Regions from separate parts of the Homo sapiens genome. Here region 2 is linked to region 1. The links come from fine-mapping of genetic effects on plasma protein levels. A gene starts in region 1. The other region holds a variant in brackets. All regions are shown on one strand. Distances are from middle to middle.

Region 1 (2,920 bases):
CCCCCTCTTCTCCCACCCTCCTCGCTCCTTTTCCTCCTCAAATCTATCATCCATTCCTCAGCCTGTGTTGCTTCGGCACTTCCCGGGTGAAAGTCTATATTGTGAAATCTGGGGAGACATGTGTTGTGTGGAGCCTGGCAGCCTGGCGGATTTATAAAAGGCAACTTGTTTTTTCACATTCATGTGGAAAAACAATGTTCTGTCAACCAGCTGGGAAGCTAAGGAAAAATACACAAACAAGAAACAATTCCACATGCTCTGGAGTCAGCCTAAGATTGGGGGGGTGAGGGCCCGGTGTGTGCAGCGCGAGGCAGCTGACCCTTGACAATCTCCTAAGGGCTATTTCTTGGGGTCCCCCATCTCAAAGGGCTGGGAGCCTCTAGGATTTCTAACCAGTATGGCTGAGGGTCTAAAGGGACGTGTCTTGGTGCCTCAAGGGGGTGCCTCACATCTTCCTGGAACGCCCAGCTTGATGCTGGGAAGCAGACTGGAGGGGGTCCCACAGAGCTGGAAGCCCTGGAGACGCAGGCAGCCCTGGCGGGACAGTGGCAGAGAAGGTGGGAAGCTCTGCCTTTTCGTGGGCCTCGTCCTGCACTTGAGCAAGGAGGGCCTGGCCGAGGCCATACCTGCTCGCCATCCTCAATCAGGACTATGCTTTGACTTCCTAAGGAAGTTCCCTGAATTTCATGCAATGCACCAGGAGAGCAGAGAGAGAGTCTAGGGTCTCATGTAACGTTCTCCATAATGATGAGCCCCCCACTCCGCTCACTTTATTGGCTTTGAACACTATGCCCTTAAGACCTGTTTCCAAATGAGTCCTGTGTCTTAAGACCTATTAATGTAGCAGACCTGGCCACTCTAGGAGAAAATGCTCTTTCAGATCTATGATAACAAAAGGGGCCAAAGAGGCCCTGCAGGGGCATGGAGGGAGGCAATAGTGAACTCAAGCTTCGTTTCCCCCGGTCCTTCCTCCTCCTCCCCTGTCAGGCCAGTGCCAAGTGAGAGGCAGAGGAAGGATGGTACAAACTGTGCCGACACCGTTTGAGGGACCGAAGGATGTCTGCCTCCTCCAGGCCAATTCTCCATTCACTGAGGTGCAGCGATCCAGCACCCCCAGTTCAGACAGCTGGCTATATCCCTCAAGACCCGAGGGTCCTTTGGGTCCCTGGAAGAACCCAGGGTCTGAGGCACCCTCTCATGCCCCCAGCAAACTAAGCTGGGCATTTGCTTCTCCGTGAACACCCGGCACCCTGCTCAGCCCTAGCAGGGGAGAAACTGAAACTGGCTATGCTCGGGCTGGGGAGGGTGCTGGGGAGATGACCCTGATCGTTGGCCCCTGGGATAAGGGAGGTCTGACCACAGGGTAGATGGGCACTCACCAGCCAGGGATCCCACAGTCAAGATGGTCAGCAGCGTCCTCATCGGGGCTGGCACAGAGCCCTCCCTTGGCCTCTACTCTGCCGTGCACAGAGAGAGGGCTGGGAGTCTTGGCGCCCTGGCAGCTGGCTCCACCCGGGCATGGGGCGGGGAGAAGGGGGTGGGTGGGACCTGTGCCGGTGGGGAGCAGGGGTACAAAGGTGTCCTGGCCCTGTGTGCTCTGGAATTCCAGGTTCTGGGCGGGATCTAAGGGAGTTCCCTTCCGACTTGCAGAAAACAGCAATAGTAACAGGCTGGCTTGTTTATCTGGTCCGGTGGCTGATTCATCCCAAGTGGTTTATCAAGGAGCTGAGGGGCAGAAAAGGCAAGAATAATCCACGATATGCAGCCTTATCAAAAAGCAATTTGGCACTGTGGATCAAAAGCCTACACCACATACATATCTTTTGCTTTAATAATTCTATTCCTAGGGGATTTACCCTGATGAAAATAACTGGACAACAGAGGGGGAAAAAAAAGGTCCCAGAATGTTTCTTGCAGCAAAGGAAAAGCTGTGACTCCTTTGCTTTTCTGGCAGGAGGAGATTGAGGGCACCCGATGCTCCTCCTTGATCCTCCATATCAAGGCAGGTCCCCACGCTTGGGGTGGGCTTGGGAACAGCTCTCCCCTAGAGAGGCCGTTGGGGGTGAGGAAGCCCAGCCGCTCTTACCTTGAGCCTTTGGGTCTAGGATCTGCAAAAGTTTAGAAAAAAAATGGAACTCAAACTTCAGTGATTCTTTCTGCTGTGCTAGAGATGGGGCTGAACTTCATGAATGGGGCTTTGGTTCGGGACGATGAAGATTCAGGCTGCTCTCCCATCATTTTGCCACGTAGGGCAGGATCTGCACATGAGCTTCGTGTGAATGAAGGGACAGGTGTTTAGGAAATGGTTTTCTCCTTCCTGCAGGGCCTGGAGAAGGTAGAAGGGCCCTGGGGCCTGGACTCTGGTCAGGGTGGACACGATTGGAGGGTCCTGCCCCTGGGGAGAGTTTGCCTGGCCCCAAGCACACAAAGGCAAGCGAAATTTTAGCAGGGATCCTGCCAACGGGTTGGGTGTAATGGGCTGTGATATGCTGAGATCGGTGTTTAAGTTTTTCTTTCCTGAATTGTAATTGTTATCAGCCCTGATTGCTAAAGTTTGTTTGACAAAACAGCCAAATCTAAGCTGTGCTTTGGAGGAATTAAGGTAGGGCCCATGCCAGTCATTTCCTGAAACTGCAGGAAACTACATTTTCTAGACTCCTTTATCAACTGCTTTCTGATAGGTTTAGCCCCTGGGGGAAGACTGGGGAGGCAGAGATCAGAGCATTTCTCCCCTCGTTTTCTGTTTGAGTGGCTTCCCCAGCAATGGCCATATCCCTCTGCAGTTCTGGCTCCCTCTGGACAGTCCATCAGCCAGGCAACCCCTTATGTCTTTCTTGTTCCTGTTTGGAGGCCAGCTCCTGGCTCTGGCAACACCTTCTCCCCTCATCTTTCCTTTCAGTTGGTGGGATGGCACAGCTTC
Region 2 (2,500 bases), 20 kb before region 1:
AGGGCTTTCCATTTTATTTTTATTTTTTGGGTGGGGGGTGGTTTTATTTTTTGGGTGGGGGGTGGTTCTGGTCTTCACTTGCTACAGCAATTCTAAAAGAACTGTAACAAAGGGCTTTCCACTTAACAATTAGTTTTGCCATTTAAAAATTTCTGTTTAAAATGGCCAGGTGCAGTGGCTCACGCTTGTAATCCCAGCACTTTGGGAGGCCGAGGTGGGTAGATCACCTGAAGTCAGGAGTTTGAGACCAGCCTGGCCAACATGGTAAAACCCGTCTCTACTAAAAATACAAAAATTAGCCAGGTGTGGTGGTGGTGCATGCCTGTAATCCCAGCTACTTGGGAGGATGAGGCAGGAGAATCGCTTGAACTCGGGAGGTGGAGGTTGTGCTGAGACGAGATCATGCCACTGCACTCCAGCCTGGGTGACAGAGGGAGACTCCATCTCAAAAAAAAAAAAATCTGTTTAAAAAATTAGTTCTGAATATTTGAAAATTGGGAGATTCCACAATATAATCTGAAACTCTGGCTTCTCTTGAAAAACATGAAGATCAGGCAGTGCTGGGCCTGCATTCCCACATGGTGGTGCCCGGCTGCCCATTTAGACAGGGCATGAGTGCCACGGCTCTCCTGGCGCCCACCATTCCTCCCTCGTTGCCTTGCTGCTCACTCAAGTCCCACACTACCCTCCTGGTGCTGGACACTTCCAAGCCATGTGGGTTTTTTATTCCATGTCTACTATTCCTGATCACCCACCCCACTTCAATGTGTCCTGAGACCTGCTGGGCTACACGTCCGTTGACTTTAGCTGGGACTGTGAGCTCCGTGAATGGAGAGAGCAGGCCCATCTCCTGCTTTGTCTGTGGATCCCTGCATTTTGGGGACAACTGGGGACCTCGGAGCCCAGGCCCTCCCCTGGACCTCTCCCTCCCACCCTGGGGGGATGGCTCACCAGGGAGTTGGGAGGTGCAGGCGGCTTGGTGACATATCTGTAGCTCAGGTAGCAGAGTACTGCGACGAGGAAGCCCATGGAGAACAGGAAGGCTCCGGAGAAGGAGTAGGTCCATGTCCGGTCTGGGAAACCAAAGGGGCCAGAGAAGGAAGCGTGAGGCTGGGCTCTGCCTGGGCCCGGTTGGGTCTGGCCCCACATGTGGATGCTGAAAACCCTCTCTGGCTGGGCTGGCAAGGCCTCTCCTACCGTCAGAATGCAAGATCACAAATGGAAGTCCATATACTGTACATCTAAATAGTCAGAATTTACAAATTATATTTTTACACTGTTAAATAAATAAAATGTTCGAGGTTTCCACCTTAACAAAAAGATTTTTTACAACCACCTGGGATGCCATATTTTAATTCAGAGTTCTTGGACTTCTCTAGGTACTGTGCTGAAGTGGGGAGGTACAGGGAAAGCCCGCAGC[G/A]CACTGCAGGCCCCCAGCCCAGCCCAGCCCAGCCCAGTTCCATCCCACACTGCCAGGGCCCTCACGCACATGTGTATAGATGCCCCAGCCCTCATGGTCGAGCTCATCCATGTCCCCTCCAAATAGCCACCTGTTGGTCATCCTTTGGGCCAAGGGTCTGCACTACATGTCAGCAGTGTCTGCCCTCATGAGGAAGTACCCCCAAAAGAGGACTGCCTAGACGGATCACAGGCTCTGGGCCATATGTACAGAGAGTTTCAGGGTCCCAGGTACTCACAATGTGATCTAGAAAGGAGGTCACAGGATCCAGATGGATCTGCCCCCTTTGTTGTATGGAGTCTTCATCTTGCAAGGAGGGGAATGGCCAGGACAGGGCCAGAGAAGGGCCTTCTAAAGTGCTGGGTGCAGGGAAAGGCCCCTTTTGCCTGAGTCTAAGGGTGGTCCTGCCTCCCTGGTAGGGTAGAGGCAGAGGGAGGGGAGAAGTGAAAACAGGGAGGCCTGTCCTCTCCACCTCCCTACCAAGATAAGGGGCTGGGCATCAGGGAAGATCTTGGTCAAGAAGGGAGCCTGGGAAGGCACTGTCCTGTCTAAAATGGAGGGGAGAGGGATGACTAGGGCTCTAGTGCCTGAGCCTCTCCCTGTGTCTCAGCATCTTTGGGATGGGTGCAGCCAGTTCCAGGCAGGACACACTTCCTGTCACCAGTCCAAGTGGGGCTTGTGAAGGACTTATGGAGGAAGAGGTTGTTGGAGTTTTTGGTAAAACTGACAGTTTGCAACAGAGGGAAGGTGACTCAGAGAGTCAAGACCCCTGCAGTCCAGGGGCCAGCTAATCACCCTCCCTCTCTTCCTGGCCCCTGTGCAGCCTCAGCTTGGAGAGTTTATCAATAGCTCCAATGACCTCGGCGATCACTGTGAACTCCGGGTACTGCTGGAACCTCTACTTCTAGCCCACTCCTCGATCCTCCCCTAGCCCACGAGCTTGGGCCTCTCTGGGTCAGCTTCCCACTTCAGTGAAACCCTGTCTCCTGTCACATGTTACCCCCATCCCTACTCCAGGAAAAAGACCCCACCCGAATGTCT

Which allele goes with the higher level. Alleles are on the strand shown, and positions count from the first base shown. The strength of an association depends on the size of the effect and on how common the allele is.
With allele A in place of G in region 2, the plasma level of the protein whose gene starts at base 1,480 in region 1 is higher (weak association).

What was found. A credible set is the group of variants that fine-mapping cannot tell apart. PIP is the chance, under the fine-mapping model, that this variant and not a neighbour inherited with it causes the effect. The UK Biobank Pharma Proteomics Project read protein levels with antibody pairs (Olink). The fine-mapping took linkage between variants from a reference panel, not from the people measured, so its PIPs are less certain.
Region 2: its variant is the best candidate, but not a certain one, in a credible set for the plasma level of the IL22RA1 protein (UK Biobank, PIP 0.69).

Annotation. Positions count from the first base shown.
Region 1 is chr1:24,141,661-24,144,580 of GRCh38, forward strand. IL22RA1 (interleukin 22 receptor subunit alpha 1) reads right to left here and starts at 1,480. Exons shown (of 7, transcript NM_021258.4): 1 at 1,380-1,480. The coding sequence starts at 1,422.
Region 2 is chr1:24,122,351-24,124,850 of GRCh38, forward strand. IL22RA1 (interleukin 22 receptor subunit alpha 1) reads right to left here. Exons shown (of 7, transcript NM_021258.4): 6 at 952-1,073. Among named protein-coding and RNA genes, the nearest start is that of MYOM3, 11 kb to the left of the region's middle. The variant G/A (reference allele first, on the strand shown) is at 1,421.